Linked DNA regions of Homo sapiens: all the other regions are reported to be linked to region 1. Evidence: microRNA targets listed by miRTarBase, many of them from high-throughput screens and not tested one by one. Region 1 holds a microRNA gene; each other region holds the end of a gene's coding sequence.

Region 1 (4,079 bases):
CTCGGTCTCTACTAAAAATACAAAAATTAGCCAGGTGCGGTGGTGTGCACCTGTAATCCCAGCTACTTGGGAGGCTGAGGCAGGAGAATCGTGTGAACTGGGGAGGTGGAGGTTGCAGTGAGCCGAGATCGAGCCATTGCACTCCAGCCCGGGTGACAGTGCGAGACTCCATCTCAAAAAAAAAAAAACAAAAAAAAAAAAACAGAGTCCTAACTCTTCCCTGCCCTGAGAACCCCCTCAAGGCAGGGAGGATCAGCTATTCCCAGCGCCTCAGGACTAAGCACACCTGCTTGTGTCCCTTCTGGGTCCACAAGGAACTTGTTCCATGCCCCACATGTGGGGCGGGTGTCACTGCTCCTCCCGGCAAGTTAGAAAGCTGCAGGGCCCAGCAAGAAGGGGCCAGGTCAGGTCAACCCAGCCTGATACCGGAAGCCAGGAGTTGGCATTTAACGGTCTGGAGGCCCAAGGCAGCTTCCTCTTGGGTAACTGGCTGCTAGGAAGGTGCGGGCCGGGCCAGTGCCCCTGCCAGGCTTGGGAGAGGAGGGGCCAAGCCTCCAGGCCCGGAAAGGACACAGCTGGCTTCCCTTTTAATGGAAGGGCCACCCACTCACCCACCTATCTATGCTGGCACCACAGCCCAGCCTGAGCTGTGGCCATGCAGGGGTCCCCAGTTGCAGAGTTGGGGATCAGGGCCTGCAGCACACATTTGGGCCCAGCCAACCCCACCCACCACATCCCTCCTCCAGACACAGGTCTGATTCTGAGTCCTCATCTCTGCTCCAAGCATCAGCCCACCCAGGGAAGGCAGGGGCTGCAGGCTCCAAGGGGGCTTGACCCCTGTTCCTGCTGAACTGAGCCAGTGTACACAAACCAACTGTGTTTCAGCTCAGTAGGCACGGGAGGCAGAGCCCAGGGAGGCCAGGCAGCAGGATGGCAGGCAGACAGGCGGCAGCAGGGGACAGGCGGCAAGGCCAGAGGAGGTGAGGGCCTGGGGGGCGGAACTTAGCCACTGTGAACACGACTTGGTGTGGACCCTGCTCACAAGCAGCTAAGCCCTGCTCCTCAGGCCAGGCACAGGCTTCGGGGCCTCTCTGCCACCCCGTCCCCGGGCAGCATCCTCGGTGGCAGAGCTCAGGGTCGGTTGGAAATCCCTGGCAATGTGATTTGTGACAGGAAGCAAATCCCATCCCCAGGAACCCCAGCCGGCCGTGGCACAGGGGTGAGGGGGGCACCGGGCGGGGCCAGAGGCTGGCACCTGGAGGGGAGAAAGAGAGAGAGAGCAAAGGAGGTAATGAGATTTGGGGACACCTCCCCTCCAGGTCCCCAGATGCTTCCTTTGATCACAGGGAAGCTCTTTTCTCATATGCAGGAGCCACCACACGGGGAGCTGGAGCCTAGCTGTGCCCTCCGTTCCAGCCCCAGGACTGGAGAGGCAGAGATACCTAGAGGGCCCATGCGGGACAAGGAGGCTACAGCAACTTGCATGGCCAAGCTCCCCCCTCATTGAGCCCTGGGCAGGCCAAATGGGGCCATGGGGAGAGGAAGCCAAGGGGGGCCAGGCAGGCGGGTGAGGAAGTGATCTCACCCCAGCTGGCGCCACTTCCTAGAAGCCTGGAGGGCAGGAGGAAACCACCAGGGCCTCCCCCCCCGTGGCCCGGTCTCCTCAGTGGCCAGGGCTTAGCCCACACCCACCAGGGCGGATGCCGGCAGCAAGGCACCCCCCTCTCTTTCTAGACACGCACCCCCCGCCCCCCAGAGCACAGGATCCAAGCTCCAAGATACAGGCCTCTCCACCCAAACAGCCCAAGGTTCAAATCCTTGCTCCACAGTTTCCCAAAGACTCTCCAAAGCTTCAGTTTCCCCATCTGTAAAATGGAGCCAAGAGCCTCTTTTGCATAGCCCAGTGAGATGTCACCGAGTATGTATGTCACTCAGTAAGTGCCCAGCACCAGGGCAAGATACAGGATTTTCAGGACCCGGTGCAAAATGAACACGTGGTCCTCTAGTTCGAAAACTAAGAATTTCAGGCCAAGCATGGCGGCTCACGCCTGTAATCCCAGCACTTTGGGAGGCCGAGGCAGGAGAGTCACCTGAGGCCAGGAGTTCAAGACCAGCCTGCGCAATACGACAATACCCCATCTCTACAAAAAAAAAAAATATTTTTTCTTTTTTGAGACAGGGTCTCACTCTGTCGCCACGGCTAGAGTGCAGGGGTGCAATCACAGCTCACTGCAGCCTCAGCCTCCCAGGTTCAAGTGATCCTCCCACCTTAGCCTCCGGGGTAGCTGGGACTACAGCTATGCACCACCATGCCCGGCTAATTTTTTCTTTTTCTTTTCTTTTTTTTTTTTTTTGAGACAGAGTCTCGCCCTGTCGCCCAGGCTGGAGTGCAATGGCGTGATCTCGGTTCACTGCAACCTCCACCTCCAGAGTTCAAGCAATTCTCCTGCTTCAGCCTCCCGAGTAGCTGGGATTACAGGTGCCCGCCACCACGCCCAGTTAAGTTTTGTATTTTTAGTAGAGACGGGGTTTCACCATGTTGGCCAGGCTGGTCTCGACCTCCTGACCTCAGGTGATCCGCCCACCTCGGCTTTCCAAAGTGCTGGGATTACAGGCGTGAGCCACCACACCTGGCCCTAATTTTTGTAGAGATGGGGTTTTGCCATGTTGCCCAGACTGGTCTCCAACTCCTGGGCTCAAGCAATCCGCCTGCCTCAGCCTCCCAAAGTGCTGGGCTTACAGGCCTGAGCCACAGTGTCTGGCCCACAAAAAATTCACTAAAAAATCAGCCAGGAGTGGTGGTACACATCTGTAGCCCCAGCTACTCAGGCGGCTGAGGTGGGAGGACTGCTTGAGCCCAGGAGTTTGAGGCTGCCGTGATCTATGACCATGCCACTGAACTCCAGCCTAAGTGACAGAGCAAGACCCTATCTCTAAAATAAACAAAAACAAGTTTAAAAAAAGAAAATAATTTCAGGCTGAGCGCGGTGGCTCATCCCTATAATCCCGGCACTTCGGGAGGCCAAGACAGGAAGATCGCTTGGGGCCAGGAGTTCGAGACCAGCCTGGGCAATACAAGACAAAAAAATTAATAATAATAAAAAAAAATTCATGACCCCAGCAGTGCAACATTAAACTAACCTCCAGGTCCCTCCAAGCAGGGCTGCCGTGAGACTGCCCGTTTCACAAATGCATGAAGCCAGCCCTAAGTCTTTAGTGAGTGGAGCTTCTTTTGATAAGAGCCCAACACCTGGCTAGCAGACTCCAGTTTTGGAGCCCAAGTCTGCCCAGATTTGAAAGCCCCAGCTCTGCAGCTTCTGAGCTGGGTGACTCTGGGCAAGTCACTCAACCTCTCTGGGCCTCAGCTTCCCCATCTGCAAAACAGGGATAATAAGTATGGACTTCATAAGTCATGGTGAGGACCCCATGAGTGATAAACATGATCACGACAGAGCTGCTGCTGTCTTTGCCAAGGCAAAGGATAACGGAAACGTGGGTGTCTCACACCAGGACCCCAGTGTCCGCCCGATGTGGTGGCGCTCACCACTTCGAGACAGGCGGCGAGTGATGTCCTGTTTTGTCCCCTCCCTATACACACATACACACATACCAGCCACTCTTTCCCATCAGGCCCCAGCCCAGCCCTGTCCCCTTAGGGTCTGGAGGCGCCAACTGGGAGCAGGCGAGGCCCCGCAGGGCGGCCAGCCTCCCTGGGCCGCCTCCGGAAGTGAGACAGCACATTCGTGTCCCAGGGACGAGAACGGGAAGGGCGGCCATTTGGCCAGGCTCGTTTCCTGTGGGGTTTCCCCTGCACAGAGCCCAGGGCCGGGGCCAAGGCCACTCCCCATCCCCGCAGGCACAAAAGGTCTGGGTCTTGAGTGGAAGGGGTGCTGCCATGCAGGTGCCCAGGAGACAGGGTCCCCTTTACCAATCATGGTGCACTTCTCAGGCTCTTGGGAGATGGTGTCCAGGGGGAAACCAAGCTCCTAGCAGCTGGAGGCATGAGGGAGAGGGCGGGCCCCTGGGCTGGGGAGCAAAGCAGGCCCCAGGCTGCATCAGGACACCCCGGCCAGCCAATG
Region 2 (4,071 bases), not on the chromosome of region 1:
TGCTTCTTTTGTGGTTTACTTTGCCCTTCTTTTTCTAATTTCTTAAGGCTGAAGTTTAGCTTATTAATTTGAAACCTTCTTTAAATGCAGGCATTTAAAGCTATAAAGTTCTATCTCAACACAGCTCCACTGCATCCCATATGCTATTGTATATCAACTTTTTCTTTCCATTCACCCCCAAGTATTTTCTAATTTCCCTGTGATTTCATCTTTGATCCACTGGTTACTTAGGAGTACATTGTTTAACTTCCACCTATTAGTAAATTATACCACTTTCCTTCTATTGATTTATAGTTTCATTCCATTGTGGTAAGAGAACACATTTTGTATGATTTCAGTATTTTTAAGTTTATTGAGATGTTTTGTGGTCTGAAATTTTGCAAAGAATGTTTCATGTGCACTTGAGAAAAATATGCATTCTGCTGTTCAGTGGAGTGTTCTGTATATATGTCTGTTAAATCCAATTGGTCTACAGAGTGGTTCAAGTTCCTTACTGATCTTCTGTCATGGTGTCCTAGCCATTGGAAGTGGGGTACTGAAATCTACAATGATTACTGTTGAATTGTCTATTTCTCTCCACTTAAATTTTGCTTTATGTATTTTGGGGCTCTGTTAGAAATATGTGTGTACACGTATATACACACGTATATAATTGGTACGTATTCTTGATGGGTTGAGTGTTTTATTGTATGTTGTTTCTGGCAAAAAATAATTTTCTTGAAGTCTATTTTGTTGGATATTATTCATATAACCACTCTAGCTCTCTTTCGGTTATTGTTTGCATGGAGTATCTTTTTCCATCCTTTTACTTTCAATCTACTTGTGTGTCTGAATCTAAAGTAACTCTTATGTAGACATAAAGGGACTGAATTTTCAAATCTGTTCTGCCAATCTAATTTAAATATCATCTTTCTTTGAGACACCTTCAAAAAGCCCCAGCGCACTCAATGTGTACTTTAAAAATCACTGATGTAGGCTGCGCGCAGTGGCTCACGCCTGTAATCCCAGCACTTTGGGAGGCTGAAGTGAGAGGATCACTTGAGGTCAGGTGTTTGAGACCAACCTGGCCAACATGATGAAAATGCCATCTCTACTAAAAATAGAAAATTAGCCAGGCATGGTGGCATGTGCTTGTAATCCCAGCTACTCGGGAGGCTGAGGAAGGAAAATCGCTTGAACCCAGGAAGTGGAGGCTGAAGTGAGCCAAGATCATGCCACTGCACTCCAGTCTGGGCAATAGAGAGAGACTAAGTCTAAAAAAATAAAAAAATTCACTGATGTAATACATGCTGGAAATTATTTATGAAAGAACCCAATATTCTTTCAGAATTTTGTCAGTAACTTACCATGTGACCTAGAACCAGTTTCTTTTTCTATTAAAGATGAAAACTGTTACCACACATGATGCCATCATAGTAAGTATTTTTAAAAGTGAGACTCAGAGTTGGCGTAACACCCACAGTATTAGTATGACATGAACTGTGGAGATATATCAGTAGCAATGGCACCAACTCACCTGTAGTGAGTTGACTACAGGTGAGTTGCAAAACCAAAAAACCCACCATCACTAACACGAACAAACAAAAAAACAGAATTTACTAGGCATGTCCATGTTTTATTTTCTTTAGGTGTTTTTCTGGAAAATTACATTTTCAAGGAATCAGCCCTTACAAACAGAGCTAATCTTTCAAAAAATAAAACCCAGTATCTAGATTCTCAAAACTTACAAAACCAACTGGAAATGTCTGGTTGTCATGCTCAATTCAGTTTCACATCACAAGTAATCATCTATAACTATTTCAGTAGGCAAATTCCAATTCTAAATATTACTAACGATTACCATTGTTATTCTCAACTGTGTTGACAATTGTCTTATTGCTGAATTGTTCATAATACATCTTCTTTGGCAACTTTATTAACACCATGGGACAACTAAAGGTCTGGATTAACTTAGTATTTCAAAACTTCATTATAATTATTTAAAAGTAAATGCTAGACTTAAATTATTTAAATTTAAATGCTAGATTTAAATTATTTAATTTTAATAAAATTTAAATTTAAATGCTAGAATAGGAAAGCCTCCAAACATGCCTAATATAACAAAAACAAAAATTGCTAAATAATCACTACTAAAAGCATTTCCATTGTATGTACAAGTATATAACTCAACTTTACCAACAAAAATATTATAATTTAGCTCCAATTCTCTATCAGACCTACTGTGATTAAAAAAAAACAAAAAATAAATGGAGAAAGCAACATCTGGGCACCTGTCAAATTTTTATGGAAGGTTGTTTTATATAAATTTTAAATGGCTTAAAATCAGCCAGAATGCGAATTTTTCACTATAATACTTTATAAACTTGTACTTTCTTTTTTCTTTCTTTCTTTTTTTGAGATGGAGTCTTGCTCTGTTACCCAGGCTGGAGTGCAGTGGCGCAATCTCGGCTCACTGCAACCTCTGCCTCCCAGGTTCAAGCGAGTCTCCTGCCTCAGCCTCCCAAGTAGCTGGGATTACAGGCACATACCACCATATCCAGCTAATTTTTGTATTTCTAGTAGAGACGAGGTTTCGCCACGTTGGTCAGGCTGGTCTTGATCTCTTGACCTCGTGATCTGCCTACCTCGGCCTCCCAAAGTGCTGGGATTACAGGCGTGAGCCACCACGCCCAGCCTAAACTTGTACTTAAATTATATATTGATAGCTTATTCATTTTTAATTCTTGTTCCATGGAATAAGCCTATTTTTGAGGCTTGGCACGATATTAACAAGAAATTTAAACAGGACGCTCATGTCCAGAAGTTTAACTAAAAAATCTTTTCTATATATAATATAACTACCAACTTAAATTACAAATTGCTTCCACTAAAAATTATCACTCCAAACTTCAGAAAAAGTAAATTAAAATAGGTTATGGCAAAAGGTACACTCTGAAGCATGTTCACATTACAAAGATAAATGATAAAGGTTAACCAGCAAAAATTCAAAAAGGCATATATGCAAACATCTGTATGCAAACTTTCATGAATAAGATATAAGAAATGATTCATTTGGCTAATTTTATGTACAGCTTGTATACAATTTAAAACAAGTACAACTGAATATGTTTCTATGTAAAAGCCACAATAAAGTTAAATGAAATACTAAATAAGTCTTACAAATTGGTCTCTTAGGAGTTCTCAAAAGAATTAGTAACTGAGTAACGTTAGATTCTAAGAAATGCCCTCTTCTTGATCTATCATTTCTGTTTTAACTGAAAACACATCTGCCAACATATGTTTTGGAATTTCTGACCCTCTGACTTTCAAGGCATAACAAGCATTCTCCACTTTGGCCAAACTTTGTTTCAAGGTATACAGCTTCTTAGAAACCTCGTAAGGTCCAGTGTTGCCAATGAATGAAAACCCATCATAAACCTGACGTAAAAACTGGCTCACTTCAAAGGGGGTATCAATGTCCCCATTCCCCACACTGTTAATACACATCCGCATCAATTCTCCAGTTAAGTCAGCCACTCCCAGAAGGTAATCGACAGGTGTGACTCTCAGTCTCCAAGTACCAAACTGCTTATCCTGTGCATCAGAGGAGGGCTGGTAAAAAAACAAAACAAAACAAAAACACACACACACACACACAAGAAAGAACACTGTGAAAAAGAGTGAATATAGCATGTATCACATTTATTATAGAAGTACAAAATCAATAGCAAATCAGTCATACTAATTTTTTCTAAATAAAATAAATCTGTTTTGCTTAATAACCACTTGGGATGTTACAGGAGGAATGTGTGCCCTGGGTAGTGAAATGAACCAGATGACTTCAAGATACTTTTGAAATATATCATTATGAAACCAACTATTTCCAACTCCACTTGATGTACAAAATAAAAATATTCTTGAACAAGGCTTAATAACTTTATTGCACGACAATTACTTTCTTAAATGAAAAACCATACAGCCCTCCAAGTTTGTGATCCATTAATGTTTTCCTAAGAAGCTCAGTCTTTTTCTGGCTTCTTGTCTTTCCCTATTCAGCACTCACCATCACAATTTATTATTCTCTCACTGCAT
Region 3 (4,076 bases), not on the chromosome of region 1:
GGCTGAGGCAGGAGAATCGCTTGAACCCAGGAAGTGGAGGTTGCAGTGAGCCAAGATCATGCCGTTGCACTCCAGCATGAGCAATAAGAGTGAAACTCTGTCCCCGCCACACACACAAAAAGATATGCCCAAGACTGGGTAATTTACAAAAGAAAGAGGTTTAATTCGACTCACAGTTCCATGTGGTTGGGGAGGCCTCACTGTCATGGTGGAAGGTGAAAGACAAGTCTTAAATCGCAGCAGGCAAGAAAGAGAATGAGAATCAAGTGAAACGGGTTTCCCCTTATCAAACCGTCAGATCTCATGAGACTTATTCACTACCACCAGAAGAGTATAGGAAAAACTACCCCTATGATTCAGTTATCTCCCACTGGGTCCCTCCCACAACACGTGGGAATTATGGGAGTACAATTCAAGATGAGATTTGGGTGGGGACACAGAGCCAGACCATATTAGCAGGGAATGGTGTAGAATCCTACGAAGTTTGAGAATTGCTACTTTAAAATGGATAAAATTTATAAAAAAATCAGCTGTGTTGGATTTCAGAAGCTATGCTGATCTGAATTTTTCTCTTGTTATTGATAAATTAATGGTTTTTCACTCTTACAGATCCTTCATGGATTTAAAAATCAAGTTGGCGATGAAAATTGGAGGCGTTTCTCTGACCAGTTTCCTCTTCCCTTAAAAGAGCGTCTTGCAGCTTTTTATGGTGTTTAATCTAATACACTTAAGCTGCAGTCCCAAAATTAGGGGTAAGTTATAAGAAGTTTGGAAATTTTCAGGATGAAGAAAATTTTGTTAGGGCTGTCATTTCAAACTACTAAATAGAATAAAAAGCTATTTGTTTTCTATAGAGGTTGAATAAAACATAGCCTCATATCATTCTATCTTGGGCTTTAAATTTAAAATTACTTAAGTGGGCCAGGTGTGGTGGCTCATGTCTGTAATCCCAGCACTTGGGGAGGCCAAGGTGGGCAGGTCATTTGAGGTCAGGAGTTTGAAACCAGCCTGGCCAACATGGTGAAAACCCATCTCTACTAAAAATACAAAAATTAGCCACGTGTGGTGGGACGTGCTTTTGTAGTCCCTGCTACTCAGGAGGCTGAGGTGGGAATATTGTTTGAACCTGGGAGATGGGGGTTGCAGTGAGCCAAGATCTTGCCAGTGCACTCCAGCCTAGGGGACAGAGCAAGACTCCATCTCAAATAAATAGAAAATAAAATTACTCAAGTGAAGGCTAAAGAAATTTTCTTAATAGAACCAACAAGCCCAGAAAAACGATTAGCTCCAGTTTGAATCGTAGGTATAAAGAAATCCACGTTGGTACACTGGTTGGATTTCTCAACATTGCTTCAACTATTCCTTTTTTCTTTCTTTTTTCCTGCAAGAAGACATCGGCACTCATAGTGATGGGGTAAAATTGATTTCATTTTGGAGCATGAATTTATAGTCTCTGCTGTAACAAGGACTTTTCATTTCACGTGCTTTGAAAGAAAACTCAGTTGGGTTTTGGCCCACTGTTTTTGTTTTTCACTGTATGTTTCACTGAGTACCTACCATGTGCCCATCACTTTTTTTTTTCTTTTTTTTTTTTTTTTTTTTTTTTTTTTTTTTTTTTTTGAGACAGAGACTCTTTCGCCCAGGCTGGAGTGCAGTGGCGCAATCTGAGTTCACTGTAATCTCCGCCTCTTGGGTTCAAGCAATTCTCCTGCCCGAGCCTCCCAAGTAGCTGGCATTACAGGCACATGCCACCATGCCTGGCTAATTTTTGTATTTTTAGTAGAGATGGGGTTTCACCATGTTGGCCGGGCTGGTCTCGAACTCCTGACCTTGTGATGCACCCACCTCGGCCTCCCAAAGTGCTGGGATTTACAGGCGTAAGCCACTGAGCCCAGTGCCTAGGACTATATTTTAAAATAAGCAATGAAAGATTCTGTTTTAATTTGGGATGGACTATATTCATTTGGACTCTTGCTCCTTGAGCTCTTCTGTACTTAAATGGGACTAGCAGTTCTCATCTCTGAGCTTCGGTTTTGTCATTGAGTTATGTTGAGGATTAAATACTATACTGTATGTGATGCCAGAACTTAGTATGTTGCCTGGCACACTAAGTTGACTCAGTAAAGGTTAGGAACTGGGCCAGTACAATAAATATCAGGGTTTTGACATTCATCTTTAGATTTTCAACATGAATTAAGACATATCTGACTGGAAGCCAGAAGATGTGCTGAATGAGCATGTACAGAAGATGTACACCAAGTTGAATTACACTTTAGATTGAATTGGAGGAGTTTTTTTGGCTTGCTTGCTTGCTTGTTTACTCCAAGCTAAAATTTAAATCTGGAAAGATTTCACCATCCAAGCTGTCTAACCTAGAAGGTAGTAGAAATGGACTCAAAGCTTCCAGAATGTGTCAGAGCCCTTCATATGTGTTGTCCTACTTCAGTCTTGAGTCCTCAAGAGCTGTTTTCCAAAATGGCTTTGGCATTTTGGAAAAGTGCTGGATTCACCTTATGTTAAATTATGAGAATGCAAAAGATGAGAATGACTTGTAGCTTCAAAGCTTCAATGAGCTACTAACAAGTCTTGAGCACTTTCAGATTTATTACCTCTGTGGTCTCATCACCAATCATGAATTAACTGTTCTAAGACAAGGTATGAAATAGTTCTCGGTTTTGTAATTAGAGCTAAAAGTAGATCAGTATCTTTTATTCCTGCCTTTTTGTACTCCTCTTCCTTTTCTTCAGAGGCAGGAGAAAAGGGATTGCTTATATTTCTACACAGATGGATTAACTGCCCTCTGTGAATTCACATGAACGTTCATAAATGGCCAAAACTTGGCATGATTGGGTAGTAGAGTTCTGTTTGTAAAAGGACCACTATCAGGTAACAGTTTAAATCTCCCAGTAATCTTACCTTATTTCTTAATATCCTTTTTATCATTAAAACTGTTTAGCATAGAAAAAAGTTCCTACCAGAAAAACCAAGTGACTGGAAGATAGTGGAAATGACCAAGTGAAATAGGATCAGAATGGGAACTAATTAGGAACATCAAGAAGGCAAGTGTAGGCAGGGTGTGATGGCCCACATCTATAATCCTAGCATTTTGGGAGGCTGAGGTGGGAGCATTGCTTGAGCCCAGGAGTTTGAGACCTGCCTGGGCAACATGATGAGATCTCCATCTCTATGAAAAAAATTAAAAAGAAAAAAATGAGCTGGGCATGGTGGTATGTACCTATGGTCCCAGCTACTCAGGAGACTGGGCAGGAGGATTGCTTGAGCCCAGGAGGTTGGGGCTTCAGTGAGCCATATTCACACCACTGCGTTCCAGCCTGGGTGACAGAGCAAGGTGCTATCTCCAAAATAAATAAATAAATGTTAAATTTGCTTTTTTCTCTCTCTCTTTTTTTATGTAGAATTTGTTTGTTGATACTTACTGAATGTAGTGACCCTGCTGTGGTAATGAACACTTCTAGTGCCTTCTAGGCTTAAAATACCAGACAACCCCAAATAACAAATGCTCTTTTGTGTTTTGATAGGTTGGATTTCTGTTTGCTTAATATTGGGAATACTGGGGGAAAAAAAGATGGTGTTTTCATTCTAAGGATTGTCCTAAAGAAAGTGCTACTTTATTTTTAAGAAAGTAAGGCCACTTGTTATATAAGAAATAACAAGTTCCCATTGGGTCCCATTTTGCAAAAGGGGATAAAGAATTAGACTGATAGCATCATACGAGGCATATTTCACTATACAAAGTGTTGTACACCTGTCTATACAACTCTCCTACCCAGCTTGACCTCACTTTTCATACCTGATGCAGCAAACAATTCAGTGCCATAGGAGAAGGAAGCAGCATGGTTATAAGTGACTAACACGATATTAGGCAATTTGTCCAAATTTCTCATTTTCTTTATAGGTAAAGATAGCATTCTTATTTGATTAATTTTTTGTTCCACTGGCTTTGAAAGACAAACGATTGTTAAAGATAAAATTGTTTTTGTTCTTTTTCTTATAGGTCCTTCAGTCTTGGAGACTATAAGGGAGCCTCTGCACCCAGGGAAAATGTTACCCTTTAC
Region 4 (4,079 bases), not on the chromosome of region 1:
TGCCTAGATTAAGCCAATGAAGTTTCTCAATTTCTGCACCCCTGAGTTCCTTCTCTTGGGTGCAGCTTCAGTTGGTTCTGCTACCACCAAGACCTCCTCTGGCCTCTGTGGTTCTAAAATAATTCTGATTTAGTCTTTCCATTTCCCCTCAGCTGAAATATGACAGTTAATGTGTTTGAGAATGATTGATGTTCATATGTGTGGCATTTTGCCTTTGAAATGGAAATTTAAAAATCACTGAAATTCTAGTTTGATTTGCAATCTGACAGGTTTTTTTGTCTTTTCTTAGGTATGGTGTGGTGGACTTTCTTTGAGTACTGGGATGCAGGTTCCAAGTGCTGTGAGAACACTTCAGAAAAGTGAAAATGGAATGACTGGTTCAGCTAGCAGCCTGAACAATGTTGTTACTCAATAGTGTCTACTCAGAATACGTTTACCCTCCGTCTTGATTAGGTGGCCTTTTCTGTGCAGTTACTAATCACAGGAATTTGGTAGTAGTGAAAATCAGGTTTGCTGTGTTCTGCTTTGAGGCCTGGAATCTTTTATCATTAAACACCTAGTACGAAGCATTTGCAGGAACCTACTGTGCAGTATCATAGAAGCAAGCAGATACCAAGCAAAAAACTGATGATTGAAGAGTAAATGGGGGAAAAGGCAGTGTTTAATTAACATAAAAACTCATTTTTGTATTTCTTGGATTACTTTGACTATTCTAATGTTTAATTACATATGGTAACCCTAAGGCCTGGGGAGAAAAGCTTTTAAATCTTGCCTTCTTTCTTCTGTACTTTGTCTTTTTAAAATCTCATTACTATCTATTATTTAGTTCTAACACAGAAGCTTTAAAAATACATAGTCATCCAAGGTTTTCTAAAAATTGAAATCATATGTTGGGAATGGTAAAAAGGTTTTCAAATGGTTTATTTTTCCTCTTTTATAAATAAGTTTTACAAAATTTTCCTCTTTTGTTTATTGACTAGATTGTATATAATTTTCTTTTTTCCAAAATATTGTGATAAGAAATTTCTAGACACAACAGCTTAAAATCACCCAAATTTCAGTTCTTTACCTACTGCACTAACAATGGCAAGGGGGGTATTCTTTATATGTTGCCTTGTTTAACTACAGTTCTTTTCATTCCATCACTTTAGGTGATGGGTAAGATTTTTGAAAGCCTTATATTTTTTGATTTTGTTGTCTAGTTTAATCCTACCTTTAATAGTTGTGTTTGGTAAAATTCCCACTTGAATGTGACACTGATAATAATTATGCTGATTTTTAGCATCTCTTATAGGAATCAAAGTTTATTAAAGTTACATAGAGGATTGAAAAATGTATATCACTCAATTTTTATCTAAGAAGGATAGGTTATAAAGGGAGGTACCTAAATACTCAAATAATGTATATATTCTTTTTCATAACATATGGAATGCTTTAAGCAATTGTTTTGAAAAAAATCTGCGTATCTTTGACTTAATTGGCACATGACTTTTTCAAGCAGCCATTCATTCAGAGGTTTGTTTTCTCTCAGTCCTTTTGCTACATTCACTTTCTTTTCAAAGAAATGTTAATTATTACAAAAATTGACATAGATATCTTTCCCAAACTTGGGGTAAAACCCATGGTTATGTGGAACATAACTGTTCTTAAAAAGTCAATTATAATTTGTAACTCACATCCTTTGAGCTAAACTAAATTAAAATTACAGTATTTAATAATTCTTTGGGCATTTTTAAGAGGTCTGAATTTGTATTTTTCTTCATTTTTGAAACTTTACATTTGTTGACTTTTTTTCATTCTCATTTAAAATATATTGTGCTATGATAACCAACCTTCTTCCAAGGAGTGACCATTACTGCCTACATTTGCGTTGCTTTCTACATAGAGACTTGTATAATAGTATTAATAGTAGCTCATTCTCTCTAAAAATTTACTGCCCACTGATAGGATGTTTTGTTTCCTTGATAAAACAAATGTAAATGAGGAATTTTATTTGAATTGGAATATTGTTTTTCTAGAGGACATTCATATCTGCACTATTATCTGATGACATGTTGGTAATTTTAAAGACTGCAAGGCAGTTTAGAGAATGAAGTAAACCAATAGATACTCTTTTGATTCTCCAAAGAAATATAATTTTGGTTTTTGTTCCTCAGAGAGAGTTTGAAAGAAATTTTCAGATGTTCTGTTCCCTATAGAGGGCCTATTCCAGGATCTAAATGAATGGGAATTTATAATTCCTTTCATAGACTCAAACCTGAAAGCAGAAATTTTTAGTAGTTGAGTTGCTTTAAGTGAATTTTAACAAATATGACACAGAAAAGGTCAGATGCTGTTGTATAAAATTTTTTACTAGTGTGTCTTATATAATTCTTTCTTCTCATTAATTCAGTGCCTTTTTCCTCTAAGCATACTCTTGGTCCATGCCCCATGCAGTGTCAACTGATGTTTAAGCTACAGAGCATTGTTGTAGTGGTGAGGGCCCTCTGTTGCAGGGGCATGGGGAAATGCATATATTAATCAGGGGCTGGAGGAGTATACATGATTCTTGTGTTCATGTTGTCATTTGAAACTCTTCACATAAAATTTTCTAATATTCATTTGGAAAACCTCTCCACTGGAGAGGTTTCATCTCTGAGAGGTTTTGTAATAATAGTGTAAGTTCAGTAAATCCAGTCCAAATTCTCATCACATGTATTATTTGATACTAAATTTTCAATTATTACTTCAAAATAAGAGTCTGAGGATTTCTTCTTACTGGCGTTCTTAAAGGTCTCTAAAATTAAAGAACAAGATGTGGTTTTTTGTTTAAGACGTTTTTAGTTTATTTGTTGTTAAGTTAAACTGGAGAAAGTTTGTCATCCTCATTTTCAAACTGAAAACTAATCAAATATAGTGCCTATTTAGTCTCAAAATAAGGTAACTATTAACTTGATTATACTATATAATATTCTCAATTACATTTGAATTTAAAAATATTGAGCTCTTGATTACAATTTAATACATTGTAAAAAGTATTAAATCCTTTGAAACATCTTTTGTTGCTTATTTAGTTTTTGTTTCTACAGGTCAAACATGATTGCTTTCTATAAAAGAAATGCTTGAGAGGTTGACTATAATGGATATGTCACAGGTATAAAACAGTTGTTTTCTAAAAACATGCATTTAGTATGGCATTCTCTTTTAGCAACTGAATTCCCAACGAGTTTTATTAAGCTGGATATCGAAATGAAGGAGCTGCCTTAAGCACTTTAGAAAAAGAATTTTTTTACAATTCATTTTGACTCTCATGGCTGACCATGTCATTATGTCTTTAAATTTTGGTAAATATGTAGATACCAAGCATTAATAACTAATGCACACAGAAATTTAATATACAGCAATTCTTTGAATGTTCCAGGTGTACGTAAACTAACTGAAAGTATTAAGGACATGCCTGTCTATACATGGGTTTCATTGATGGTATCTGTATCATCTTGACAAATCGTGAACTGCTGCTGTATGGCTAGACTTTGCCTATTTACTCTGTTATGCAAACAGTAATTTTTCCCTATGTTATGAAGAGAGACATATTGGCTTGCTTTAATTTACTTATTTATGAAATTAAAGCATGAATAATATGTATAATTTGAATTTTTTGTGACTGATCCTTGGCAGTATAAATGATAAAAGTAAATGTAATGGAATCTTTTAATTAGGCTAAGATATGCTATTTCATAACTTATGTAGAATGATTTTTATCTATATACTTTGTCCATAAAATTATAATTGTTTATGTAATTTTATTGTTTCTTATGGAAACAATTGGAAAAGTATATGGAAAATGATTATTTCAAAGAATATTTATTTAAAGAGGGAAGTGTAGACTTCTTACTGTAAAATATGTGATTCCAGGCTTAAGAAATTGATTATATTTTAAAATAATTATTTTTTTAAAAACGTAATTTGTTTTTAAAAGATGAGTCTCCATTCATTGGCTAATCCATACAGCAAATATTTGAGTGTTTGTGATATGGCAGTAAAAATGTGATTACTTTGTATGTACATTAACCAAAACCAGTGAAGTTTGATGGACTGTG
Region 5 (4,079 bases), not on the chromosome of region 1:
CTGGCGATGCCTCTTCCACCTCCCTATTGCCCTGCTACTTAAACTGCGTGGCGACCCCCTTCTGGGAACTCCTGACATCCGAAGCCGGGCCTTCTTCTGTGCCCTGCTCAACATCCTCAGCATTGGATGTGCCTACAGTGCGGTTCAGGTGGTGCCCGCTGGCAACGCTGCCACTGTTCGCAAAGGTTCTTCCACCGTCTGCTCCGCCGTCCTCACTCTCTGCCTTGAGAGCCAGGGTCTCAGTGGCTACGACTGGTGTGGACTGTTGGGCTGCATCCTAGGACTAATCATCATTGTGGGACCTGGACTCTGGACACTACAGGAGGGGACCACGGGTGTCTACACCGCCCTGGGCTATGTGGAGGCTTTCCTGGGAGGCCTGGCGCTGTCCCTGAGGCTTCTGGTCTATCGTTCTCTGCACTTTCCCCCCTGCCTCCCAACAGTGGCCTTCCTATCTGGCTTGGTGGGGCTGCTGGGCTCTGTGCCAGGCCTCTTTGTGCTGCAGGCCCCCGTGTTGCCCAGTGACCTCCTGAGTTGGAGTTGTGTGGGGGCAGTGGGGATCCTCGCCTTGGTCTCCTTCACATGTGTGGGCTATGCGGTCACCAAGGCCCACCCTGCCCTGGTGTGCGCTGTCCTACATTCCGAGGTGGTTGTGGCCCTTATACTGCAGTATTATATGCTCCATGAGACTGTGGCACCTTCTGACATCGTGGCGGCAGGGGTTGTGCTGGGCAGCATTGCCATCATTACAGCCCAGAACCTCAGCTGTGAGAGGACAGGGAGGGTGGAGGAGTGAGATAGAACTTGGGAGCCCGGGGGTTGGGAGGGACAGGGATAAATAAAGGCAAAGACTGAAGACAAACATGGGAGGAGAAGTGACTGGAAAAGAACTGGTGTGGGAGAGGGATACCTCTCAGAGTCAAGGGTGACTTGGGGACTTGGTGGAGAGGGACTACGTGGAAGACCTGGGGCCAGCCTGGGACCAAGGGATGTGGAGTCCAGGCTGGGTCCTAGAATCAGGGCATAACTAAGGGGTAAAGTCTGAGGAGCAGATCCAAAGGGCTGAGGCAGGGAGGCCGTGGGCCATGGGGAGGACTTCACTCAGCAGCAAAGAGAAGAGCATTGGGGCTGGAGTGTTCCGGCAAAGACAGAGCCAGCAGCTGCGCTGGGGGAGGGAAGCGTGCCTCCCCACCCCTCCCCTCACGGGGAAGGTTTCCTTTCCTCGTGCTTGTGCCCCCCGCTTGGGGTGGTGACGTGACATTGACATCAAACAAGGATTACAGTGAATGTGAAAAAAAAAAAAAAAGATACCTGAATAGACATTTCTATGACATTTTAAAAGCCATGAATTTATTTTGGCACAAATATTTTATCATATGCAGTCACTTCTTTGTAAATGATTTTTTGTAAAGTCATTGGATATAAAAGAGTGATTTTCCTCACCTGAGTACATGAAAAGAAAATGCTGAAATCAATGTATAAATCAAATCATCTGTACTAGCACTGTTAATCTAGAAGAAAGTGGTTGCATAGAGAAGAGTAAGAATGTAGACCAGCTTATTGAAGTAGGAAAAGAAAAAAAAAAGGAGCTTCAGAGGTAGGCTTTGCCTCTTAAAAAAATTAAAAACATAAGTCACTGTGTTGTGCTTGGGAGTTAGCAGCAAAAAAAAAAAAAAAAAATGAAGTCACTGTCTGTGAAAGGAAAAGAAAAAATGAAAAGAGTTTGCATCCATTGAAGTATGCAGAAAAAGAAAACAAGTTTTAAAATAAAATAAAATGAGTATAGTTGGGGGCTTAGCAATGGACATACAGAGTGGAGTAATAGACACCGGAGGCTCCAAAAGGTGGGCAGATGGGTGGGGGATGAGGGATGAAATCCTACCTATTGGGTACAATGTTCACTATTCTGATGATGAGGATGCTATGCAATATGCTTTACCACTACGCAATGTATCCATGCAACAAAACTGCACTTGTACTCCTAAATCCATAAAAATTTAAAATTGTCTTGGCTGAGACCTCTTTTAAAAAATAATAAAATAAAAAAATTAGAGAGAATAGTAAGAGCAGAGCAAGGACATTTAGTCTATAGTTTCAAATGGACTTAATCATTTGAAACAATAAAGTTTTTCATTGAATCTTCATAGAGTATTAAAAAAAAAGCTGCTCATTGGCAGAATTTCCCACTGAGTTAGTATAGATTACATGCTCTTTGATAAAAGCAGCAAATAAAGTTACTTGGTTTTTTTTCTCTTTAGTGTTTGCTTTAAGAGAAAAATCCTAAACTCCTTCAGAGGAAGGAAAAAAGAGACAGAGAGTGAGAAATCCTTAAAACTGTAGGGACTTCCAATGCCAGGAAACCATGAAATATGAGAGTATATTTAGCAATCATGGTGATTTAGCTCATGGTAATTGGCATATGTATAATTATAATTTGCATTCCAGTTATTTAAACTGAGATATTCCTGATCAGGTTTAACACACTTGGGGAAAGATCTCTTTCCCCAAGAAATAAGATGGAGAGAGTCTTTGGAGAGTGGCCTAACTGAACTGGTAAGTCAGCTTCCTCCGGATTTTGGTAATTTCCTCACTTCTTCCATAATTTCTCAGTGCCCTGGCCATTTTCTGATAAGTCATGGTCTTCCAACGGCCTTTTCTTTTCCGCCAAAGCTCGGCAAGTTTTCCTTTGTTTTTTGATACAAACGGAAAGATGCCTTTGATTTTATCTACCCACTGAATACAAGGTGCCATCTCCGGATTACACAGGGATTCGTGAAGGTATTCAAACAGTCTAAGCTTCTTCCTGCCTTTTCCCCACTTTTGCTGGAGAATAGTGGGTTGTACCAGCTGGTTTTCAGTTATGTTCTGCAGAGACTGATGAATGTTTCCTTCAAAATAGAAGTCCGCAGCACTGTTGATTACCGTTCTCCAATTACAGAGAGGTTCCTCTGTAGGCAACACTCCATAGCAGCTGGAATTTCCTTTGACGTGAGGACAATAATTGATTAAAGCCAGGTAATTTTTGTAATCTGGCGAGTACTAAAGATCTCCAGTTGAATGTTGCCTCAGTGCCTCAAAAGCATCCTCAAATGCTTGACCCAGCTTGTCTTGTTCAACACACGTCATGTTTCATTAATAAATTGACAATTTTGTTCCTTGGCAATTGTTGCAGGAAGACACTTCAACCCTTTATAGAGATATTTCATTAATATCAGAATTGTAAATTCAATGGTAGGCTGTCATGAAAATAAAAAATTATTTTCCAGCATGATGGTTCTGCCCATCAGTGTCCAATGCAGCATCCACTTGCATATGGTGGAAATAGCCTTCCCCTCCCCTGAAACACATGTCTGCCTCCCGCTTGGCTAACCTGTAACCTGCCATTGTAACAGCTGTCACGTTTGGCCAATTTTATGATTTTCATTGCCTTTTCTTGCCTTTTTGTACTAGCTACGCTCTTCGGTACAAAGTTGAATACAATTGGTAATAGCAAGTACTGTTATCTCATTCTTAATCTCGGGATAATTAAATATCACAGTGGCTATAGATTTTATACAGATAAACTTTATCACATTAAGGAAGCTTCTTTCTATTTTTAGTTTACTGAAGAGTTTTATCATGAATTGTTACTGAATTTTATCAAAAACTTTTCTTACGTCTATTGAGATAGTCATTATTTTATTCTTTATTCTGTTGATGTAGTACATTATATTGGTTGATAGTCTCATATTAACCAACTTATTGTTCTTAGAATAAACATAACTTGATTAATGTGTTATCTTTTTATATATTGGTGGATTTGGGGTGCTAGTATTTAGTAAAGGATTTTGTACCTATAGTCATAAAAGATACTGGTCTACAATTTTCCTATATGTCTTTGTTAAGTTTTGCTATCAAGCTATCCTCATAAAAAGAGCTGAAAGTGTCCTTTCTTTTATCTTCTTTGGAAGGGTTTGCATAAGACTGGTACTGTTTTGGCCAGACGCGGTGGCACACACCTGTAATCCCAACGCTTTGCGAGGCTGAGGTGAGAGGATTATTTGAGCCCAGGAGTTCAAGACCAGCCTGGTCTTTACAAA
Region 6 (4,000 bases), not on the chromosome of region 1:
GTGACCGTGGACGTGTTCGGCCGGGGCGGGCCGGGGCAGCCGGTGCCCGAAATTGGGCTCCTGCACACAGTGGCCCGCTACAAGTTCTACCTGGCTTTCGAGAACTCGCAGCACCTGGATTATATCACCGAGAAGCTCTGGCGCAACGCGTTGCTCGCTGGGGCGGTGCCGGTGGTGCTGGGCCCAGACCGTGCCAACTACGAGCGCTTTGTGCCCCGCGGCGCCTTCATCCACGTGGACGACTTCCCAAGTGCCTCCTCCCTGGCCTCGTACCTGCTTTTCCTCGACCGCAACCCCGCGGTCTATCGCCGCTACTTCCACTGGCGCCGGAGCTACGCTGTCCACATCACCTCCTTCTGGGACGAGCCTTGGTGCCGGGTGTGCCAGGCTGTACAGAGGGCTGGGGACCGGCCCAAGAGCATACGGAACTTGGCCAGCTGGTTCGAGCGGTGAAGCCGCGCTCCCCTGGAAGCGACCCAGGGGAGGCCAAGTTGTCAGCTTTTTGATCCTCTACTGTGCATCTCCTTGACTGCCGCATCATGGGAGTAAGTTCTTCAAACACCCATTTTTGCTCTATGGGAAAAAAACGATTTACCAATTAATATTACTCAGCACAGAGATGGGGGCCCGGTTTCCATATTTTTTGCACAGCTAGCAATTGGGCTCCCTTTGCTGCTGATGGGCATCATTGTTTAGGGGTGAAGGAGGGGGTTCTTCCTCACCTTGTAACCAGTGCAGAAATGAAATAGCTTAGCGGCAAGAAGCCGTTGAGGCGGTTTCCTGAATTTCCCCATCTGCCACAGGCCATATTTGTGGCCCGTGCAGCTTCCAAATCTCATACACAACTGTTCCCGATTCACGTTTTTCTGGACCAAGGTGAAGCAAATTTGTGGTTGTAGAAGGAGCCTTGTTGGTGGAGAGTGGAAGGACTGTGGCTGCAGGTGGGACTTTGTTGTTTGGATTCCTCACAGCCTTGGCTCCTGAGAAAGGTGAGGAGGGCAGTCCAAGAGGGGCCGCTGACTTCTTTCACAAGTACTATCTGTTCCCCTGTCCTGTGAATGGAAGCAAAGTGCTGGATTGTCCTTGGAGGAAACTTAAGATGAATACATGCGTGTACCTCACTTTACATAAGAAATGTATTCCTGAAAAGCTGCATTTAAATCAAGTCCCAAATTCATTGACTTAGGGGAGTTCAGTATTTAATGAAACCCTATGGAGAATTTATCCCTTTACAATGTGAATAGTCATCTCCTAATTTGTTTCTTCTGTCTTTATGTTTTTCTATAACCTGGATTTTTTAAATCATATTAAAATTACAGATGTGAAAATAAAGCAGAAGCAACCTTTTTCCCTCTTCCCAGAAAACCAGTCTGTGTTTACAGACAGAAGAGAAGGAAGCCATAGTGTCACTTCCACACAATTATTTATTTCATGTCTTTACTGGACCTGAAATTTAAACTGCAATGCCAGTCCTGCAGGAGTGCTGGCATTACCCTCTGCAGAACAGTGAAAGGTATTGCACTACATTATGGAATCATGCAAAAGGAAAAAAAGTTTCATGATATCTGTTGTTGGCAGTTTTTGTTTATCTCTGACAGTTTTTAGTTAAATGTTTAGATCCTCAGAACTACATTAGTGCCTACTATTAACTTACTCTGTCTCTTGTTAAAGGCTAAATCTGCGCTTCTCCCTGGTGCCAGCAGGTTCCCCTCACAGTCAATGCAGTGGTATAGCATATCCTCACATTTCTAGTGCCCTTGAGACTGTGCTATGGAACCAATCTTGAACATACATGCATTGACTTGACAAGTTACTGAGTAAGCAGCATATTCAGCAGGTGCCACTACATGCCTACTCTGCCAGACACTGAGCTTGGGGCCCTAGGGAAGATAGAGAATTATACAAGGCAAAGTCCTTCTCTTTAGGGCTCTTACAATCTATCACTTCCAAAAAGTAAATGGTGACTGATAAAACAATTGGCAGAACCTGTTTGATTACTGTGACAGTCTTAATGATACCATAAATCAATATTAGAAAGCTAGTTGACTTAAAGCCTGAAATAATGGGAGTTTTCTCCTCCACTTATTAGAATAAGGACCCTCAGTGACTAATTATTGTGGGTAGGGTCAAGATTAACTAGTTTTATACAGAGTTCTGCTGTAAATAGTCATTTTGCATTTGATTAGTGCAGTTCTCTGAATCATAAAGCAAGTTTTACCTCTCTGTACATGTTTTTGCAGACATACTTGAAAAGCTCACTTAAATCTAGGTGCTTCAATTCACTTTCTTGAGAGGACAAATGAAAAGCTGTGGAGAAAATGTCCTCATTAAAGTATTAAAGTGTGGGCAGAATTACAATTACAAAGTGCCAGCCACCGAATAAAGATAAAAGTTCAGTTCTTAAAATGAGTTTTTATGAGATAACAGTCAGTGATCTTGGTGTTACCGGGATTCCACATGGGGCAGTGGGAAAGAGTTCAGGTTTTGAAGGTAACCTAGTTTAGATTTGAATTCCAGCTATGTGACATTGGGTAAATTAGTAGTAGTCCTGAGCCTCAGCGTCCTCATCTATAAAATGACTGGCGAAAATACTTCACAAGCTCATTTTGAGCACTTTAGGAAGTAAGTGAAAGTACCTAAAATAGCAGGCACCCAATTGATGATTTTATATCTTCCTTCTTTGCTTGCAGTGATTTCAGGATGTCCTCATATCTATTTATAGGTCTAAAATTATATCTTAAGGTATGTTGTAGAATAAATTAAAAGGATAATCTAAATCACCATTTAGATTAAGCTTGACTTGCAAACTAGGAAGAAGCACCTAGGCTTTCTTTGAAAATATTTTTTTGGTTCGTTTTGGTAAAGCTCTATAAATTGGTATCTATTATTTTACCAATTTTTTTTTAGTATTAAGTCCATTTAGAACTAACCATATTATTTATGGAATAATTAGCATGAGGAAGGTATAATTGCATTTTTTTTTTTTTGAGACGGAGTCTTGCACTGTAGCCCCAGCTGGACTGCAGTGGCGTGATCTTGGCTCACTGCAACCTCCGCCTCCCAGGTTCAAGCGATTCTCCTGCCTCAGCCTCCCGAGCAGCTGAGACTACAGGCGCCTGCCACCACGCCTGGCCAATTTTTTGTATTTTTAGTAGAGACTGCGTTTCACCATGTTGGGCAGGCTGGTCTTGAACTCCTGACCTTGTGATCCACCTGCCTCGGCCTCTCAGAGAGCTGGGATTACAGGTGTGAGCCGCCGTGCCCAGCCATTGCATTTTTATTCACATACACATTGTTAATGTGGAACAATTTAACACTAATCTCATCAGAGAGCGAGATGAATGTGGCAATTGCTCATTTTATTTTGCATATATTAAATTGAGTAGGTTCAGCTCTAACATACCTTAAGAAAAATGCATATCGGTGCACTGTATGTATTTCAAAATGCCTTTCCTATGATTGTCATGTCCTCCTTTAAGGCTTTTCCCTCAAATTTATTACAAATTTAGTATTTTTAGTACTTGATGACTCTAATTACATGAATGCACCTGGAATGACATTTGTAACAGAAGACGGTCTGACTTGCTTTCAGTATTCACAAGTTCTTTCCAGTTTCCAAGTCTTTTCCTAGCAGTAATTTAGGGGAGACAGAGGAGTTTCATGTAAAGAGCATGCAGTTTGGAGTCAGAACCTGGGTATGACTCTGTGGCCTTGATGAAGCAAGTTACTTAAACTCTTGAGTTTTAGCTTTCTCCTTTACAATGCATGAATGCCTATCCCCCTACAAAACAAAGATTAAATGTGATGATGTATGCCAAGGTGCTTTGTATATTGTAAAGTGCTATATAATTATAAGATGTTCTAAATTTTCAAGGATCTAAACCAGGGATTGGCAAACGTTTTTCCAGGGAGTAAATATTTTACGCTTTGCATATATAATTTATGGAGGTGTTGAGAGGATAGATTAGACACTTGAAGTACTCAGGATAGTGCCTGGCAT
Region 7 (4,079 bases), not on the chromosome of region 1:
TCCTGACTGTCTTATTGGAGGAAGAGACACTTGGAACAAGTCTAGGCCTAAAGGAAGTTGAAGAAAAAGTAAGAGATTTTCTTAAAGTCAAGTTCACCAATTCTAACACACCCAACTCCTACAATCATATGGACCCAGACAAACTGAATGGCCTCTGGAGCCGTATTTCTCACTTAGTTCTGCCTGTGCAACCTGAAAATGCCCTGAAAAGGGGCATCTGCTTATAAGAAGTGAGAGAGAAGAAAAATCATGTCCCAAGTTCTGAGAATTGTTCACACTTTCTAACCAGAGACAGAATTCAGAGCTCTTTTTGAAAGAACTAGTTTCTTTTTAAAGAAGTTAAGTGCTTACATAAACATGGAACATATAAATCATTCATTCAACCTAATTATCTGTGATATGAGAGAATCATTTCAGTTTCCATTGAGAGCTCTGTTAAAGGTATCTTAGGAGTGCAGATTATATGCAGTTCCTTAGAGAATCTGTTTTGATTCTGGGCTGAGTTATTACAGTTATGGTATGACCAGTGAGAGGGATTTGTGTCCTTTCTTATGAACCTTCCTGATTTTTTAACTTAGATTTCTCACTAAGTTTCCTGAGTTATTAGTAAGATTGCTCCCTAAATGTAACCAGGGATTTTCCCATTATGTTCCCTTTTATACCATTTAGGTGTGAGTTCCTTAGCTTCTGCCTATAGGAACATAAGTAATGAAAGGTCATCTAGGTGTGTGTTTGGAATTTTTTTCTTTTGTTTTTTGGAAAATGGAAAGAACAAGGCAAGGAAGGAAAATTAATGGGGAAGCTGAAGGGAGGAAATGTTACAGTAATCCACTGAGATGTAGTTTAGTCAAACATAGGTATATGAACTGTTAATCTTGGTGGATTCCGTTGGGATTTGTTTTTTACATCTCCTTTTTCCTTCCTTGAAGAAAAATTCTTGGCTGTCCCAAGGATTCTTCATGTATATTGCAAAATTTAATATATTTGTTCACTTGAGTCTTAAGAGTAGGTCAGGCCAAGGCAGGTGGATCACCTGAGGTCAGAAGTTCAAGACCAGCCTGGCCAACATGGTGAAACCCCGTCTCTACTAAAAATACAAAAATTAGCTGGGCGTGGTGGTGCATGCCTGAAATCCCAGCTACTTGGGAGGCTGAGGCAGGAGAATTGCTTGAACCCGGGAGGCGGAGGTTGCAGTAAGCCGAGACCATGCTTATTGCCCTCCAGTCTGGGCAACAAAAATGAAACTCCGTCTCAAAAAAAAAAAAGTAGGTCAATTCGTAACAGTTTATTTTGGACACACCCTGAAGCTTTTGTTTTGAATTAAGAAATGAGTTTCAGGAATTGACAAACCATTTGTTAACCAGCTGTCCTGGGCTATTGAAGAAGATTTCATTTTCCGCGCATCCACTTGTTGCAGTCCAAGTCCTCTAGTGCAACGCCATAGCAAATATAAAGATTTACTATGCACGTGATACATTTTATGGAGTGCCTCAAGCCAAGATAGTGAATTTATATGAAGGGTGTGAAATGTATTTCTTTACTACTATAGTAGTTTAGTTATAACTTTGCATCTATAATTGAGCTTTCTCATCTGTCAAATGCTATGGTTTTCTTAAAATGTTACAATTCTAGATCTATCCACCTTGTTTTTTTATTGTCTACAAACCATTAAATGTAAATATTGTTTTTAGAGTCAGTCATTGGCTTTGTCATTTACCCTTTGAGAGTTCCACAAGTGGTAGTAGAGTGGTTTAACGTCTTTCCTCTAGTACTACCAGTATTCATAAATGTATACCCCTTACTGTAATTTGTTCCTCTTAGAAGTCAGATCATCTGATTTATAGAGGATTATGAAAACCAGAGTTTTTGAAAAGGCTTATTTTATACATACGTATTATATAGAGAAACAAATGTTTTTATTAAATGTTTCATTGACCCAAGTAATTTAAAAGTAATATGTTACCTATGTCTTTCAGGAAAAATAATTATAGCAGCTGATCTGTAAATGACTTTAAAAGCTATTTTAGTAATTTAAATAAATTTACTTTCTTGGTTTATACTCTCTATGTGTTATAAACTTAATGATTTATCATCTTTAAAAAAAGAAATCCAAGTATTTTCCTTGAACAATTGTAGCAACTCTGGCTAGGAGAAACAAAAATCAAAGAACTGGAGCCATTTGCAAGTACATTGGTTAGAAGTGGAATAGCCGTAACTTTCCATTTTATCTCGGCACTTAGGGTTTTTAAAAATACAGTTAAGTTAGATATTCCTGACTTAGCAAAAGAATCTCCACAGCAGCTTTTCTTTTTTTTTTTTTTAAGTAGACATGGGATCTCGCTATATTGCCCAGGCTGTTTTTGAACTCTTGGCCTCAAGCAGTCCTCCTGCCTAAGCCTCCTAAGTAGCTGGGATTACAGGCATAAGTCACTACACCTGGCTTCTTAACCTTTTCTTTATCACCTCCCTGAAGAACTTTTTTAGATTTTTTTCTTAGTCACCCCTTCCCCATGATATTTCAACACCAGATATATACTATGTATCTGTTTATGGACTGTAAATGTTTTTTGCTTTATACAAAATAGAATTTTTTTTTGTCCCCAATGAACCAATTTTCACCCCCATTGAGAATGCATGCTCAAGAGCATCCACGTTTTAGATAATTGCTGCCTAAAATGTTCTATTTGCTATTCATGTTACTGTGATCCTTTTAGAAGGGAAAATTTATTTTTTATTTTTTTTATTTTTTATTTTTTTTATTTTTGAGACAATCTCACTCTTGCCCAGGCTGGAGTGCAGTGGCGCAATCTCGGCTCACTGCAACCTCCGCCTCCCATGTTCAAGTGATTCTTCTGCCTCAGCCTCCCGAGTAGCTGGGATTACAGGTTCACACCACCATGCCCGGCTAATTTTTTGTATTTTTAGTAGAGACGGAGTTTCACCATGTTGGCCAGGCTGGTCTTGAACTCCTGACCTCAGGTGATCCACCTGCCTTGGCCTCCCAAAGTGCTGGGATTACAGGCATGAGCCGCGGAGCCTGGCCTAGAAAGGAAAATTTAAGTAAGATACCAGCTTCAGAATAGGAGCTAGGGTCTAGAGAAATGGAGCACATTGTAACTGGCTGACAACAGTGGCCCAGGAAAACCACAGTAACTTAATTTGAAACTTAATTTGCTTCCCTTGTTTTAATGACTTTTTAATATTTAAAGATGTTTTCTAAACCTCTAATCCTCAAAACAAAAATTGGAAGTAAACTGATTTTCATTCAGTGAACTGCCATTTAGAAGTGATAGGGGTTTACATACTTTGTACCATTAGTTAACGCCTAAGCTAAAAGTATAATATCCAGTTTCCCTATGATCTCAAGTTTATGGAAAGTAGCCTTTCTTTTGGCAGTGTAAACAAGCAGTTACATTAAATACGTAAAGATAATGCATTATTCTGCTATTTTGTCCTTATCAAGATCATGTAGTAAAATTTTGTGGTATAAGAGGATAGTGTTTTTCCCTAAGGAAGAGGATTTTATTGGCATTAACCACCAAAGATGGGGTTCCTGAGCCTGGAAAACCAAGCTGAGAAGGCTGCCATTGACTGGAAAAGGAGGAAATTCCTCCCTTGAATGCCCTCTTTCTGGCCTGGATTCTGAGAATTCCTTGTGTGTTTAAGGACCCTTGTGGGTGGTAGAGAAACTAGTTCCTGTCACCTGAGCATAAACAGAAGAACCCCTTTGTACTCTACACCCCAGACATAATGAACTACTTGCAATTTCCTAAACACATCATTCACTTGTCTTTTGCACATTCTTAGACTCTTGGAATACTTCATTTCCTGCCCTCTCGCTTTCTCCAATCTCATGTTCTGCTAATTTTTATTTGTCCTTAAAGTCTTCGTTTTCTTAGGGCAGCACTTCAGTGAAATCTTTCATAATTCCCTTCCCCCAGATACTATTTTAGGTGCCTCCTGTTTTTTTTCTTTCTTTCTTTCTTTCTTTCTTTTTTCTTTTTCTTTTTTTGGTAGCTTAAACAATAAGACCTTTATTGTTACAAAACCCAGCAGCGTGAGGAGTTCCTGGGTTGGGT

The links. The annotated mature microRNA hsa-miR-23a-3p reads AUCACAUUGCCAGGGAUUUCC and lies in region 1 at 1,144-1,164, opposite strand. An mRNA with a match to its seed (bases 2 to 7 or 8) in the 3' UTR can be bound and repressed. Matches are read on the target gene's strand: a 7mer-m8 pairs with bases 2 to 8, a 7mer-A1 pairs with bases 2 to 7 and ends in A, and an 8mer does both.
Region 2: miRTarBase lists TSNAX as a target of hsa-miR-23a-3p. Seed matches in the 3' UTR shown: 8mer at 2,942-2,949 and 7mer-A1 at 1,769-1,775.
Region 3: miRTarBase lists TNPO1 as a target of hsa-miR-23a-3p. The part of its 3' UTR that is shown has no 7-base or 8-base seed match.
Region 4: the mRNA of FSD1L is a reported target of hsa-miR-23a-3p. Seed matches in the 3' UTR shown: 7mer-m8 at 1,248-1,254 and 7mer-m8 at 4,024-4,030.
Region 5: miRTarBase lists SLC35G3 as a target of hsa-miR-23a-3p. Seed matches in the 3' UTR shown: 8mer at 1,286-1,293.
Region 6: miRTarBase lists FUT4 as a target of hsa-miR-23a-3p. Seed matches in the 3' UTR shown: 8mer at 1,234-1,241, 7mer-A1 at 1,320-1,326 and 7mer-m8 at 3,799-3,805.
Region 7: miRTarBase lists TOR1AIP1 as a target of hsa-miR-23a-3p. The part of its 3' UTR that is shown has no 7-base or 8-base seed match.

Annotation. Positions count from the first base shown.
Region 1 is chr19:13,835,452-13,839,530 of GRCh38, forward strand. It overlaps MIR23A (microRNA 23a), which reads right to left and starts at 1,208; the gene lies at 1,136-1,208. MIR23AHG (miR-23a/27a/24-2 cluster host gene) reads right to left here. Exons shown (of 1, transcript NR_036515.2): 1 at 1-4,079. MIR24-2 (microRNA 24-2) reads right to left here and starts at 908; the gene lies at 836-908. It overlaps MIR27A (microRNA 27a), which reads right to left and starts at 1,066; the gene lies at 989-1,066. RefSeq lists enhancers at 3,141-3,250, 3,281-3,500, 3,721-3,820.
Region 2 is chr1:231,564,048-231,568,118 of GRCh38, reverse strand. TSNAX (translin associated factor X) reads right to left here. Exons shown (of 6, transcript NM_005999.3): 6 at 1,595-3,591. The coding sequence ends at 3,214. All of the region lies in intron 4 of TSNAX-DISC1 (TSNAX-DISC1 readthrough (NMD candidate)), which reads right to left. Among named protein-coding and RNA genes, the nearest start is that of TSNAX, 37 kb to the right of the region's middle.
Region 3 is chr5:72,904,694-72,908,769 of GRCh38, forward strand. TNPO1 (transportin 1) reads left to right here. Exons shown (of 25, transcript NM_002270.4): 24 at 610-752; 25 at 4,016-4,076. The coding sequence ends at 717. Among named protein-coding and RNA genes, the nearest start is that of MIR4804, 28 kb to the left of the region's middle.
Region 4 is chr9:105,546,069-105,550,147 of GRCh38, forward strand. FSD1L (fibronectin type III and SPRY domain containing 1 like) reads left to right here. Exons shown (of 14, transcript NM_001145313.3): 14 at 290-4,079. The coding sequence ends at 415. Among named protein-coding and RNA genes, the nearest start is that of FKTN, 10 kb to the right of the region's middle.
Region 5 is chr17:35,190,008-35,194,086 of GRCh38, reverse strand. SLC35G3 (solute carrier family 35 member G3) reads left to right here. Exons shown (of 1, transcript NM_152462.2): 1 at 1-1,567. The coding sequence ends at 796. It also overlaps the pseudogene SPICP2. Among named protein-coding and RNA genes, the nearest start is that of SLC35G3, 2.3 kb to the left of the region's middle.
Region 6 is chr11:94,545,274-94,549,273 of GRCh38, forward strand. FUT4 (fucosyltransferase 4) reads left to right here. Exons shown (of 1, transcript NM_002033.4): 1 at 1-4,000. The coding sequence ends at 453. It overlaps PIWIL4-AS1 (PIWIL4 antisense RNA 1), which reads right to left. Exons shown (of 5, transcript NR_135093.1): 5 at 59-573. Among named protein-coding and RNA genes, the nearest start is that of FUT4, 3.4 kb to the left of the region's middle. RefSeq lists an enhancer at 225-899.
Region 7 is chr1:179,918,013-179,922,091 of GRCh38, forward strand. TOR1AIP1 (torsin 1A interacting protein 1) reads left to right here. Exons shown (of 10, transcript NM_015602.4): 10 at 1-2,064. The coding sequence ends at 227. Among named protein-coding and RNA genes, the nearest start is that of CEP350, 35 kb to the right of the region's middle.